Linked DNA regions of Homo sapiens. The protein of the gene in region 2 interacts with the protein of the main gene of each other region in a biochemical or structural test. Each region holds a gene or a part of one and is shown on either strand. Other genes may lie near its edges. The genes, in order: ZER1 and ZNF701.

Region 1 (7,267 bases), on a different chromosome or scaffold from region 2:
TATGCATGTACATGCCGGTGCCAGAATAACGGATCCATGATCAGGGAGTGAATCATCCAGAAAATCTGAATGGCCCTCCGAGGGCCTCCCCACTCCTAGGGGCTCCTAGAAGCATGCTATGCAGTCACTGAATGCTGGGAGTTCAATCTACAGGCCCAGATGGTGGCCAGGCATGGTGGCTCACACGTGTAATTCCAGCATTTTGGGAAGCCAAGACAGGAGGATCACTTGAGACCAGAAATTCAAGATCAGCCTGGGTGACATAGCGAGACCTTGTCTCTACCAAAAAAAAAAAAAGAAAAAGATTCCCAGAAGGGAAATTATTAGACAGCTGCATAGGAAACTAGAAGCCTGTGTGGGCCTGAGGACAGAGGTGGACCTGTAATAACGTCCTGAGCATTTACCGTGGGTCAGGCTTTAGGTTGGACACTTTGCAGGCCATAGTTATATCCACTTTACAGATGAAGAAACTGAGGTCTGGGAAAGTTCATTTACTTGTGTGAAGTTGCCCAGGTAGGAAGCAGCCAAGCCAAGATTTAGAGTCTAAAGCGTTTGAATCCAAAGCATTTCCCAGCAGACCAGGATTCTTGCATGAGCTGATGTCTCAACAGGGCTTCATTAAGGGCTTGTCCTGTACCCAGCTGGGAACTCTGAACTACTTGGCTTAGTTTGCCTGTTTAAAAGGGTCGCAGGAGGGGCTTAAAGAAGGTGACGAGAGTGGCCATGCCAGTGGGGCTGCTGCCCCTGCAGTGTGCGTGCGTGGAGGCTGTGTGACAGGCATGTGCACTGGGAGAGATGGCGCCTGCATCACCTAGAAGGTCTCCCAGAGAGCTGCCTTTAGATTCCTGGTTCCTGGGCACCCTTAATCTTACTGGTAGTTTAGTCAGGATCTGACCAGATACTCTTAGGAGAAGGAGGTTGCTACTTGGGGTGATCCAAGAAAGCTTCAGGGGGAGGAGGGCTTGGCTTTGAAGCGAGGATGAGAGTCCCTGTGGCCCTCTCCTGAGCCAGGCTTTTTTCTCTCCCAGGTATGTGGAGCTGGTGAACGCTGCCTGTAACTTCGAGCCACACGAGAGCTTCTTCAGCCTCTTTTCGGACCCCCGCAGCACCCGCCTCACGCGGATCCACCTCCGTGAGGACCTGGTGCAGGACCAGGACCTGGAGGCCATCCGCAAGCAGGTGAGACCTGCCCCGCCACAGCGCCAGGAGGGCCCACACCAAGCAGGGGCCAGGCTGCTCGCCTCCAGCCCAGCCATCCCCAGCCCAGCCAGTGTGCACCGTGACTGTGCACATCCCCCTTTCCAACCCACCTGTAGCCCAGGGCAAGGCCTGGGGCCGGGGGAAGGGGCAAGGGTGGTGATGATGATGGAGCTGTGCCCACTCCCAGGACCTGGTGGAGCTGTACCTGACTAACTGCGAGAAGCTGTCCGCCAAGAGCCTGCAGACACTGAGGAGCTTCAGCCACACCCTGGTGTCCTTGAGCCTCTTCGGCTGTACAAACATTTTCTATGAGGAGGAGAACCCAGGGGGCTGTGAAGATGAGTACCTCGTCAACCCCACCTGCCAGGTGCTGGTTAAGGATTTCACCTTCGAGGGCTTCAGCCGCCTCCGCTTCCTCAACTTGGGCCGCATGATTGATTGGGTCCCTGTGGAGTCCCTGCTGCGGCCGCTTAACTCCCTGGCTGCCTTGGACCTCTCAGGCATTCAGACGAGCGACGCCGCCTTCCTCACCCAGTGGAAAGACAGCCTGGTGTCCCTCGTCCTCTACAACATGGACCTGTCCGACGACCACATCCGGGTCATCGTGCAGCTGCACAAGCTGCGGTGAGCTCCTGGCCCAGAGCTCACCAGGGTGGGGTTTGGGGGGCAGGTGGGGAGGAGTAGAGGTGGGTGTTGTCACGCCCTCAGGGTTCAGGAGCGCTTGGCTAGGCAGAGGGTGGGGATGAAGACACAGTCCCATTCCTTAAACCCAGTGTTTCAGCTGGATTGGGGCTGTTTGGGGTTTCTTCCCAGAATGCCCTGGGGAAGTTGTGGCAGGAATGGGCCCTCCCCTGCTACAGACTAAAGGAGCTGGGATCTGCAAGGCAGCCCCACCCTGTACCCAGCTCCTAACCTGCACCCCCTACCCCAATCTTCAGACACCTGGACATCTCCCGAGACCGCCTCTCCAGCTACTACAAGTTCAAGCTGACTCGGGAGGTGCTGAGCCTCTTTGTGCAGAAGCTGGGGAACCTAATGTCCCTGGACATCTCTGGCCACATGATCCTAGAGAACTGCAGCATCTCCAAGATGGAAGAGGAAGCGGGGCAGACCAGGTGGGGCCCCAGCCTCCATGGCTACTGGTAGGGTGTCATTCAACAGGCATTTAGGCTGGCGCAGTGGCTCACGCCTGTAATCCCAGCACTTTGGGAAGCCAAGATGGGCGGATCACTTGAGGCCAGGAGTTAGAGACCAGCCTGGCCAACATGGTGAAACCCCATTTCTACTAAAAATACAAAATTTAGCTGGACATGGTGGCAGACACCTGTAGTCCCAGCTACTTGGGAGGCTAAGGTATGAGAATTGAAGCCGGGAGGCGGAGCCTGCAGTGAGCTGAGATCGCGCCACTGCACTCCAGCCTAGGCAACAAAGTGGGACTTTGTCTCAAAAAAAAAAAAAAAGAAAGTATTTGCCAAGTACCCCTCTGCCAAGTGCTGTGCTGGGTGCTAGAGATAAAGAAACAAATCAGGTCCTGCCCTCTTGGAGGCTGTGTGAGCTGGTGGGGACAATCAAGTCATTACAAGGGCTATGGTAGGGGCAATCCAGGGCCCCGGTGTGGCCTGAGGATCAGGAAGGAAGGAGGAGGAGGGACGCATCCTGGCTGTCCTGAAAGCTCATTCTGCCTCTGCCAGAGGAAGCGTGTTCTAGCAGAGGGAACAGCACCTGCAAAGGCCAGTAGGTGAGAGCATGAGGAGCGACAGGGGAACTACCCAACACTCAGCCTGACCAGAGCACAGTGCCATGGGGGGAAGAGGCAAGGCTGGCAGTGTCTGCCACCTATGGAGTATTGCTGGACATAGGTCGGTTCTTGGATTGGTTGGTTGAGAAGTTTGACCAAACCCTACCAGCTGTAACTGGCCACCCATAAGCCCTGGCCCCAGCCTGCTTTAATGGTGTTCAGTTGAGCTTGTCCCTTTGTGATTGTTGGTGAGACCTAAAGGTGCCATGTCCTTACTAGAATGGCAGGTGGTTTCTAAAGGTGGCTGCATTGCCCATCCTATGTGTTCCCCTACTATGTGGCTTTGCCATGCTTCCATCAGGAGGTGGTGCTTATGTCCCCTACCATTAAAAACAAAAGGAGTAGGGGATGAGGTTGGAGGGCCTAGAAGAGAAAGCAAGGAAATGCCTCACCACCCCCAGTGGGGAGGCCCAGCTCAGGCCTGGGTCCCAAGCCACTGACACCGGCACCCTCTTTCCCCAGCATTGAGCCTTCCAAGAGCAGCATCATACCTTTCCGGGCTCTGAAGAGGCCGCTGCAGTTCCTCGGGCTCTTTGAGAACTCTCTGTGCCGCCTCACGCACATTCCAGCCTACAAAGTGAGCAGTGGAAGTGGGATGGGTCTGGGCCAGGGAGCCTTGGGAGAGAGAAGGAGCTGGATTCTGGGGCTGGAGACTGAGCTGGGATCTGGCATCCCAGCCCTTGGCCTCTGCTGGGTTGTTCTGAGCGTGTCCCACCCGCAGGTAAGTGGTGACAAAAACGAAGAGCAGGTGCTGAATGCCATCGAGGCCTACACGGAGCACCGGCCTGAGATCACCTCGCGGGCCATCAACTTGCTTTTTGACATCGCCCGCATCGAGCGTTGCAACCAGCTGCTGCGGGCCCTGAAGGTCAGCTCCAAGCCTGGGGCCTTGGCCTCCTGTCCCTCCCCACCTGGAGGTTGCCGGGCTTGGCTGAGCCGTGTCCCCAGAGCCTGTGTCCTTCTGCACCCTGTCCCCAGGGCCCCAGGACCCGAACCCCAGCCTGGGCCTCACAGCACTTGACTTGCTTCAGCACTGGCCTTGTTTGGTCCCCACCCTGGTGTCTGCTCCCCAGGCCCCACTTCTGCCTTTAGAGAGCAAGACCAGGCTAAACCTTGCCCCAGAGAGCCTGTTCCAGCCCCTTGCAGAGCCCAGGCCTCTCCCTGCACTTGCCAGCCCAGGTCCCCCTTGTCTTCATACAGCTGGTCATCACGGCCCTCAAGTGCCACAAATATGACAGGAACATTCAAGTGACAGGCAGCGCCGCTCTCTTCTACCTAACAAATTCCGAGTACCGCTCAGAGCAGAGTGTGAAGCTGCGCCGGCAGGTTATCCAGGTGGTGCTGAATGGCATGGAATCCTACCAGGAGGTGACGGTGAGCCCCCACCCGCCACGGCCCCGCATGCTCTGGCCCAGCCACCCCTTTCCTGCTTCTTGCGTCCCGCTAGGGCTCCCCCGGCTCTGGGCTGCATCTGTCCCAGCTCCCTTTCCCACAGCAGCACTCCCTGACTCTTGGGACCTGGCCCTTCCCACAGTCCATCACTCCTGGCTGCCCTCCATCCTCCTCCCTGCCCCATGTGGGGGTGGGGGCCCAGGGACCCTGCCCTTCTCCCTGCCTGTGCCGTCTCCTCAGCCCTTCTGCCCATACACTCTGCTGGGGGATTTCTTACCAACAGCTGCTTTTAATATAAAAGTAATAAAAGCCTTTATTATAGAAAAGTTATAATTACAGATATACAGAAAATAAAAATCACCCATAAACCCACTACCCAGAGACAGGCACCATTAACATGGGATATCAATTGTGAATTTTAGCCTATGCACACATATTTTGTAAATGGGATACACAAACTGCATACTGTTTGTATATGGTGGATTTTTACTTCAACTGTGTTGTCACATGAATATGAACATCTCCCTTATCCGCCAACAATTTTTTTCTTTTTTGAGATGGAGTTTCACTCTTATTGCCCAGGCTGGAGTGCAATGGCACAATCTCGGGTCACTGCAACTTCCACCTCCCGGGTTCAAGTGATTCTCCTGTCTCAGCCTCCCGAGTAGCTGGGATTACAGGCATGCGCCACCATGCCCGGCTAATTTTGTATTTTTAGTAAAGATGGGATTTTACCATATTGGTCAGGCTGGTCTCGAACTCCTGACCTCAGGTGATCCACCTGCCTCAGCCTCCCAAAGTGCTGGGATTACAGATGTGAGCCACTGCGCCTGGCCAGCCAACAAATTTTTTTTTCAGATGGAGTCTTGCTCTGTTGCCCAAGCTGGAGAGCAGTGGCGGGTTCAAGTGATTCTCCTGCCTCAGCCTCCCAAGTAGCTGGGACTACAGGTGCATGCCACCACACCTGCCTAATTTATGTATTTTTAGTAGAGACGGGGTTTTGCCATGTTGGTCAGTCTGGTGTTGAACTCCTGACCTCAGGTGATCCACCTGCCTCAGCCTCCCAAAGTGCTGGGATTACAAGCATGTGCCACCACACCCAGCCAACATATTTATATAACAAAAACTTTTTTTCATTTCAGATGGGCAATATGCCAACGTCCTAACATGGTTTGAGGGAGGCACATTTCACACATGAGCATGAAGACCTAATCATCACTCTTATAAACTACGAAAGGATCAAACAATAATTTTTATTTATTTATTTTTTCGAGATGGAGTCTTACTCTGTCGCCCAGGCTGGAGTGCAGTGCACAATCTTGGCTCACTGCAATCTCTGCCTCCTGAGTTCAAGTGATCCTCCTGCCTCAGCCCCCCTAGTGGCTGGGACTACAGGCACGTGCCACCATGCCAGGCTAATATTTGTATTTTTAGTAGAGACAGGGTTTCGCCATGTTGGCCAGGCTGGTCTCGAACTCCTGAGCTCAGGTGATCCACCTGCCTCGGCCTCCCAAAGTGCTGGGATTACAGGCGTGAGCCACCGTGCTCAGCCACAATATATATATATATATTTTAATTAAGACAGGGTCTCAGGCTGGGCGTGGTGGCTCACGCCTGTAATCCCAGCACTTTGGGAGGCTGAGGCAGGCAGATCATGAGGTCAGGAGTTTGAGACCAGCCTGGCCAACATGGCGAAACCCCATCTCTACTAAAAAATACAAAAATTAGCTGGCCACGGTGGCTCACACCTGTAATCCCAGCACTTTGGGAGGCTGAGGCAGGCGGATCACCTGAAGTCAGGAGTTCGAGACCAGCCTGGCCAACGTGGTGAAACCCTGTCTCTACTAAAAATACACAAATTAGCTGGGCATGGTGGCAGGCGCCTGTAGTCCCAGCTACCTGGGAGGCTGAGGCAGGAGAATTGCTGGAACCCAGGAGGTAGAGGTTGCAGTGAGCTGAGATCAAGCCACCGAACTCCAGCCTGGGTGACAGAGGGAGACTCTGTCACAAAGAAAAACAAAAACAAATACACAGGGTCTCACTTTGTTGCCAAGGCTGGAGTATAGCGGCATGATCACAGCTCACTGTGGCCTCCACCTCTCAGGCTCAAGCAAGCCTCCCAACTCAGCCTCCCCAGTAGCTGGGACAACAAGGCATGTACCACCACACCCAACTAATTTTTTTTTTTTTTTTTTTGAGACAGAGTCTCGCTCTGTCACCCAGGCTGGAGTTAAGTGGCACGATCTCGGCTCACTGCAAGCTCCACCTCCCAGGTTCACGCTATTCTGCCTCAGCCTCCCGAGTAGCTGGGACTACAGGCGCCCGCCACCCTGCCACGCTAAGTTTTTGTATTTTTAGTGGAGACGGGGTTTCACTGTGTTAGCCAGGATGGTCTCAATCTCCTGACCTCATGATCCGCCTGCGTCGGCCTCCCAAAGTGCTGGGATTATAGGCATGAGCCACCATGCCCGGCCCACAGTCAGCTAATTTGTATTTGTGTGTGTCTGTGTGTATGTGGTGACGGGGTCTCGCTGTGTTGCCCTTGCTATCCCCTAGCTCAAGTGATCCTCCTGCCTTGGTTTCCCAAAGTGCTGGGATTATAAGCATGAGCCATTGCACTAGGCCCAAAAATTGTTTAATAATGTTTCTTTTCTGATTACAAAAGATATCTAATGCTTAAGCCAGGTGTGGTGGCCCTCACCTGTAATCTCAGCACTTTGGAGGGCCGAGGAAGGCAGATCACTTAAGATCAGGAGTTCCAGACCAGCCTGGCCAACATGGTGAAACCCTATCTCTACTAAAACTACAAAAATTAGCCGGGCATACTGGCGGGTGCCTGTAGTCCCAGCTACTCCACTCCGGAGGCTAAGGCAGGAG
Region 2 (7,788 bases):
AGCACTCTGGAAGGCTGAGGTGGGAGGATTACTCAAGTTCAGGAGTTCAACAGCAGCCTGGCCAACATGGTGAAACCCCATATCTACTAAAAATACAAAAAGTAGCTGGGCTTGGTGGGCATTGGTAAGCCCAGCTACTCGGGAGGCTGAGGTTGGAGGATCGCTTGAACCTGGAAGGTGGAGGTTGCAGTGAGCCAAGATCGCACCACTGGACTCCAGCCAGGGCAACAGAGTAAGACTCAAAAATAAAATAAAATACAAATACAAAAATTAGCAGAGTATGGTGGCACACACCTGTAATCTCAGCTACTTGGGAGACTAAGGCACAAGAATTGCTTGAACTCAGGAGACAAAGGTTGCAGTGAGCCAAGATCACAAGACTGCACTCACAGCCTGGAGGACAGAGCGAGACTCTTTGGAAAAAGAAAAAAAGTGTGTTTCTGATGTGACTGACACAGAGATAATAAAACCTGAGTAATGTGATAGAGACTGATGGGCAGAGGGAAATTCAGTTGGGGGTGGGAGGGCATGGGAGACATTTCTGAGCCAGGACCTGAAGGAGAAAGGGACAGTGCTGTGAGCATTTAGAGAAATAGGGTAAGAGCAGTGAAAATGACCTGAGACGGGAAGGGTTTTGATGTTTGGGAAAAGAGAAAAGCAAATGTGACTGGGGCAGAGGGAGTCATGAGATGAGGGCAAGTTCCCAGGAGGAGCCTGGACAGTGGCAGGGGCCCTGGACACAGGGCTGTGGAGTGACAGTGAGGAGTTGGGCTTTTGTCCTGGGGAACACAGGAAGCCCATGGAGGGTTCCCTGCCAGGGACTGACATGATCTGCTTTAGATTTAGCTGTGACATCCTCAGAACGGGGACATTTTCACCGAGTCACGCTGAGAAGGTCTGAGATGAGTGAAAAGATGTAACGGAATTCTTACATGGTGGCCTGGAAGGGATAAAGGAAAGGGTTGGCCTTATCAAAACTATCCTTGAAAATTAGAGAAGCCTCTTTCACATACCTGGGATAAAGAAACTTCCTTTGCAAGTTCTGATGCCACTGATTCCCAACATTTAATTCTTCCTCACAAGAAAATTACAGTAACATTTATAAAATGCAGATGTACAAAGACACAGCTAGTTACCTTCAAAACAGGGAGGCTGAGTGCGGTGGCTCACACCTGTAATCCCAGCACTTTGGGAGGCCGAGGCAGGCGGATCACCTGATGTCGGGAGTTCGAGACCATCCTGACCAACATGGAGAAACCCCATCTCTACTAAAAATACAAAAATTATCTAGATGTTGTGGCACTTGCCTGTAATTCCAGCTACTCAGGAAGGCCGAGGCAGGACAATCGCTTAAAACCGGGAGGTAAAGGTGGTGGTGAGTAGGCCGGGCTCGGTGGCTCATGCCTATAATCCCAGCACTTTGGGAAGCCGAGGTGGGCAGATCACCTGAGGTCAGGAGTTCAAGACCAACCTGACCAATATGGAGAAACCCCATCTCTACTAAAAATACAAAATTAGCCTGGTGTGGTGGCACATGCCTGTAATCCCAGCTACTAGGGAGGCTGAGGCAGGAGACTCGCTTGAACTCGGGAGGTGGAGGTTGCAGTGAGCCGAGATCGCACCATTGCACTCCAGCACGGGCAACAAGAGCGAAACTCCGTCTCAAAAAAAAAACCAAAAAGGGTTGCGGTGACCCAAGATCACACCATTGCACTCCAGCCTGGGCAACAAGAGCGAAAGTGCATCTCAAAACAAACAAGCAAACAAACAAACAAAAAGCAGGGAAAGAGGGTCAGCTGTAGAACTAAGACATAAGCAAACTTTTTCAATCAAGAATGCTTGGGTGGCCAGGTGCGGTGGCTCACGCCTGTAATTCCAACACTTTGGGAGGTCGAGGCGGGTGGATCACCTGAGGTCAGGAGTTCGAGACCAGCCTGGCCAACATGGTGAAACCCCGTCTCTACTAAAAATACAAAAATTACCTGGGCTCCATCCTCACGTCTTATTTAATCTCTTGTTGCTCCTTCTCCCCAATTCTTCGATCGTCCTCAATCTCCATATATTTCCGCCTCTTATCCCATCTCTGCATCTCTGCCGCTCTCCCTGTTAAATTCTCTCTTCTCTGTTTTACCCCCCGTCCCCACTCTCTAGCACCCCAGATCCCCAGGCGTCCTCCCTGCTGTGGTTCTCCCTCTGTTCTCCTTGCCACCAGCACCACTCTGCTCTGTCTGCCCTGGCTCCAAATTCCTCCTCTCTCTCTCTCTCTCTCTCACTCTGATGAGCCTCCCTCTTTGCTGCCCCTCTCTACCTTGCTGTCTGTCCTTCATCTCTCTGTACATCTAGCTTTTCTCTACATTTCTCCAGTTGCTTTTCTCCTCCTGCTTTCTTATCTTTTTTTTTTCACTTTTGCTGTCTCTTGGCAAATCCCTCACCCATCCTCTACTTTGCCATCTGTTATGGGTCTTTCTCATTCTTCTTTTCTCTGTCTCAGGTTTTCTACTACTCTCTGTCTCCTGATCTCTTTAGCCCACACAATCACAGGAGGGTTTGAAGTAAGACGCCTGCATCCCAGAGAGGCTCATTTTTCAGGGGTTGGAGCTAGGCAGGCAAGAACACACCGTGTCACAGGACTGGCCCCTGGCACCTCCCCAACGCTGGCTCAAGGAAAGTGGTGACTGCTAAGGGGAGACTTGGGGTGCAGCAAGGCCCAGCATGAGGCGGGAGGTGGGGTGCGACGACGCCTTCGGTGGGGTCCACAAGATCCCAGCACCAGGCAGAGAACTCGGCCTCCCTGAGACTGGGATCGCGACGTTTGCGCTTCAGGCGCCTAAAGGTTGAGACTGGGAGGCGCCCAGGCGGAAATACACATCTCGGGTGAGGACTTTGAAAAGCGCGGGGAGGGAGGAGTTAAAAAACGGTTTTGAGCACAGAAACTACGCGATAGGAAGTGTATACAGCGCCCTGTAGCAGAAAGACTGGAGACGGGAACAGCCTCAGGGCGACTTTAAACACAAAAGGAAGCGACTTCCGGATTCCCAGGGGAACGTCTGCATTTGCTCTGGTTGAAGGAAGATGGGCGAGAATTTACAGGTCTGTGGTGACCCCACGTCCCAGGTACGGAAGTGCCGGGGATATGGGGAGTGCAGACTTAATACAACACAGAGCAAAACTCACCGCCGCGGTGCGACCTTCACTCCACGGGATCCGCTTCCTGGTCTGCGCGGATGTGTGCGCACAGGACTAAAGCCAGGCCTGGGTGGAGCCAACGAGAAGGTGGGCGGGGCCTGATCGAGGTAGAGGCGGGGCCCCAGGCGGAGAGACCTTGCCCTTTAGAACCGGCAGAGGGCGGGGCCGGGGCGGGACCTGTGCGTCTCTCAGCCTCGCTCCCAGCGACTCTATTTTTCGGGCTTTGGAGGCGAGAGCGGTCAGGAAGGCTGAAGCACGATTCGAAAGCCCTGGAATTGTCTGGAACGGGGATGCAAACAAGAATGTAAAATGCAAAGCCCTGCCTGGGCGGAACGTACAATTTCATGCTGACGGCCCACAGAACAGAACAGAAATCCTCTCCCTTTCTATTCTCCATTCACTCAGGAGGGAGAGTCCACCCTGTGCTCAGCTTCAGAGACTTCCCTAGGGCCTCCGCCTGGGATGCGCGACGGAGTGTTCAGGCCAGGGAGGAGTGAAGTCACCACCTACTGCTTAAACATAGCAGGAATGCGGCCAGGTGGGCGGGAGCCTGAGGGCCAGAGGCGGGAGGATCACTGAGCCTGGGGGTCCAGGCCAGCCTGGGCGACAAAGTAACACACCCTCCCGCAGGGCTCCCCTCATCGTCTCTTTTAATTTTTAAAATAAAATTTTGATTGTGTGAGATAGGGATACAACATTATTCTTTTCCATGTGGATATCCAGTTAATTGTCCCAGCACATTTGTGGAAGAGATCTATTACTTTCTTTTTTTTCTTTTCTTTTTTTTTTTAAGACGGAGTATTTCTCTGTCGCTCAGGCTGGAGTGCAGTGGTGACATCTCGGCTCACTGCAGCCTCTGCCTCCTGGGTTGAAGCGATTCTCCTGCCTCAGCCTCCGGAATAGCTGGCATTACAGGCACAGGCCACCATGCCCGGCTAATTTTTGTATTTTGGGTAGAGACGGGGTTTCACCATGTTGGCCAGGCTGGTCTCGAACTCCTGACTTCAAGTGATCCGCCTGCCTCGGCCTCCTGAAATGCTGGGATTACAGGCGTGAACCACTGTGCCTGGCCCAAGAAATACTCTTCACTTCGCTCTTAAATGTTGAGAAAATACAATTGAAAACTAAAAAAATCTTCCCCTAAATGAGAAATCATCTTCACGACGATAACAGAGAAAGAAATAAAAACTATTTTATTAATAAATAGGCCTTAGACCAGCATGTGATGGGAAATAGAGGACAGTTGAGAGGTTGAAAAGAGAGAAAGAAACTTCACTGTTCTATACAACCCAAATACATGTTTTCAAGATAAACACTGATCAGTCCTCAGGGAAGAGGACTTGACAACACCCTTGGTCACACATAATTCATCCTGGCTCTACTTGGTAATGGAGGTGACCATCTGTGTCAGCTAACTAGCATCATCCTGAGGGAGGGGGAGAAACCCTAACCCATGTATTTTTGGCAAGTGTGAGTTTTACAGCATGGCGGACAGGTGCCCTCTCTGGTGAGGCTCCTACAATCCAACAGAAACTGATGTCAGCAGTAAATAATGAAATTTAGAATACATTATTAATTATAGAGTTTATTTGGACACAAAGCATGAGAATAGCCACCTGGAAACCTCAACTCCAAATGAATGGGGTCAGCGTTCCCAAGTAGAGACATTAACATTTCACACACACAAGGAAATACAGAGAAGCTTTCCCAGAACCACCACATTTTCCATTCAAGTCCAGTGCATAGGCTGCGGCAGCTTGACTGGTGATGGAGTGATACACTTCAAGGAAGGTTACATTATCACTCCATAAGAAGGGACAATGATGCCAGGAGGTCTTATCTCTGGGGCTGCTTAGTTTTCCTAATTATTTACACGAAAACTTTTTAAAATTGATATTAGGAAACTAAATTGTATAGCACATTTTGTTTTGTTTTGTTTTGTTTTGGGAAGGCGTCCTGCTCTGTCGCCCAGGCTGGAATGCAGTGATGTGATCTCGGCTCACTACGACCTCCACGTCCTGGGTTCAAGCAGTTCTCCTGCCTCAGCCTCCCAAATAGCTGAAAATACAGGCGTGCGCCACCATGCCCGGCTAATGGCTTTGTATTTTCAGTAGAGACGGGGTTTCCCCATGTTGGCCAGGCTGGTTTCTAATTCCTGACGTCAGGCGATCCGCCCGCCTCAGCCTCCCAGAGTGCTGGGATTACAGGCCTGAGCCTGCATGCCTGGCCAGGAAAACTTGTAGAAGTTGCGCCTGCATGCCACCGGACTCAGGTTGCATGACCACGTTCCTCTCAAGGTTCCGAATTATTTAAAAGTCTGTAGCTTTAAATTTGAAATAGCTGATGTTTGAAATATTTAATTTCCTACTGACTTACAGGTACTATCTCCCTTGTTGCTTGCCTTTCAAGAAGAGATTCTAAGTCCTTCAGAAGTACATCTCTGGGTTATTATGCTGAAAAAAGGTTTAATTACTTTCTAAAATATTCTACTTCAGGCCGGGCGCGGTGGCTCAAGCCTGTAATCCCAGCCCTTTGGTAGGCTGAGGACGGCGGATGGCCTGAGGTCGGGAGTTCGAGACCAGCCTGACCAATATAGAGAAACCCCGTCTCTACTACAAATATAAAAATTAGCCTGGAGTGGTGGCATGAGCCTGTAGTCCCAGCTACTCCGGAGGCTGAGGCAGGAGAATCGCTTGAGCCCAGAAAATGGAAGCTGTGGTGAGCCATGATCATGACATTGTACTCCAGCCCAGGGAACTAGAGTGAAACTCAGTCTCAAAAACAAAATAATAATAATAATAATAATAATAATAATAATAATAATAATAATAAAAAATACAGCTGGACAAGGTGTCTCAAGCCTGAGCGAGACTCCGTCTTAAAAAAAAAAAGAAAAAAAAAAGAAAACTACCAGTTACACAGTAGGGCGACCTCAAAAACAAAGGGAACTGCCTTCTCTTAAAGTTTCTCTTACATAGGTGCTTAGGTAAAAACTAAGGTATGTCTACCTGCCAGTGGGCTGACAGTGTAACAAAACTTATTACTTTGTTGATTTAAAGCTATCCTTGGCCGGTTGCATTGGCTCCCGCCTGTAATTCTGGCACTTTGGAAGGCCGACGTGGGGGCATCACCTGAGATCAGGGGTTCGAGACCAGCCTTGCGAACGTGATGAAACCCCGTCTCTACTGAAAATTCAACGATTAGCCGGGGGTGGTGGTGCATGCCTGTAATCCTAGCTACTCAGGAGGCTGAGGCAGGAGAATCGCTTGAACCCGGAAGGTGGAAGTTGCAATGAGCCGAGATTGTCCTATTGCACTCCAGCCTGGATGACAAAAGTGAAGCTCCATCAAAAAAAAAAAAACACCTATCCTTGGTATTTTAGTGTGCAAGTACGTGAAAGCATGACTGTAATTAGCTTAGAAGCATACATTGTCATGGGATATTGGGTCATCTGGACATTGTGTTTATGTAGGAGTTTGTCCTTGCAGGTATGATTAAGCTGCTTTTCTTAACTGTAAACATCTTAAGACCATGAGTCATGCGTGAGCAGTAAGGAATGTATGTTGCTAGTTTTAATGGACTTGAACTTTGTCACCCTAGCTCCCCTAGGATCCTGTTTAACAGTTTATCCACTTATGCACCAGAGTCCTAAGCACAATTATGGAGACACCATCCTTTTGTAATGTATCTGACAGACTGAGCTTCTGCCCCAAGAACATAGTAATAGCAATACTAAGTGAAATATTATAAAGTTTTGTGTATCTATGTAATTATCTATTATTTGCGTTTTAAATTAGCTAAAGTTATATAGAATGGGTTTTTATTTCAATCTAATACTAGAAATATATCTTTTGGCCCAGCATAGTGGCGCATACCTGTAATCTCAGCACTTTGGGAGGCTGAGGCAGGTGGATCACCTGAGGTCAGGAATTCAAGACCAGCCTGACTAACATAATGAAACCCAGTCTCTACTAAATACAAAAGAATTAGCCGGGCATGGTGATGCATGCCTGTAATCTGAGCTACTTGGGGTGCTGAGACAGGAGAATCCGTAGTACCTGGGAGGCAGAGGTTTCAGTGATCCGAGATCGCACCATTGCACTCCAGCCTGGGCAACAAGATTGAAACTCCGTCTCAAAAAACAAAACAAAACAAACTATATATATATATATAAAATCTTTCACAAATGGACTCTAATCCCACAAAGTTGTAAAGCATTTCCCTATGGTGAATAAATATGAAGGAGTTGAGATTTTGGAACTGATTTGTGCTTTCCATTATACTCATTTTTTCCTTATTCTATCTTGATCTTTTCTGTGTTCATGAGCTTGTGATCCAAAAGTATCTACTAGGTCTCAATGAATTTAGAAATCTATTTTGCCAAGGTTAAAATGCACCCATGACACAGCCTCAGGAGGTCCTGATGACGTGTGCCCAAGATGTTCAGGCTGCAATTTACAAATTTAGGGTGACATGAGACATCAATCAATACATATAAGATACACCTTGGTTCGATCTGGGAAGGTGAAATAACTGGAATTGCGGGCTTCCAGGTCACAGGGAGATAACAAATGATCACATTGTTTGAGTCTTTGATCAACC

Evidence for each region.
Region 1: the proteins of ZNF701 (region 2) and ZER1 are reported together in a solved structure, tested with the Homo sapiens proteins (2 studies listed by BioGRID, with this or other methods).

What each region holds. Positions count from the first base shown.
Region 1 is NC_000009.12:128,747,721-128,754,987, reverse strand, and holds part of ZER1 (protein zer-1 homolog), read left to right. Parts: intron 1-1,028; coding exon 1,029-1,179; intron 1,180-1,387; coding exon 1,388-1,824; intron 1,825-2,138; coding exon 2,139-2,315; intron 2,316-3,460; coding exon 3,461-3,575; intron 3,576-3,719; coding exon 3,720-3,866; intron 3,867-4,198; coding exon 4,199-4,372; intron 4,373-5,526; exon of another isoform or gene 5,527-5,630; intron 5,631-7,267. UniProt on the Homo sapiens protein: Serves as substrate adapter subunit in the E3 ubiquitin ligase complex ZYG11B-CUL2-Elongin BC. Acts to target substrates bearing N-terminal degrons for proteasomal degradation with the first four residues of substrates being the key recognition elements.
Region 2 is NC_000019.10:52,565,717-52,573,504, reverse strand, and holds the start of ZNF701 (zinc finger protein 701), read right to left. Parts: upstream 3,219-7,788; 5' UTR 3,175-3,218; intron 2,842-3,174; exon of another isoform or gene 2,619-2,841; intron 1,269-2,618; exon of another isoform or gene 1,264-1,268; coding exon of another isoform or gene 1,137-1,263; intron 941-1,136; exon of another isoform or gene 827-940; intron 813-826; exon of another isoform or gene 295-812; intron 1-294. UniProt on the Homo sapiens protein: May be involved in transcriptional regulation.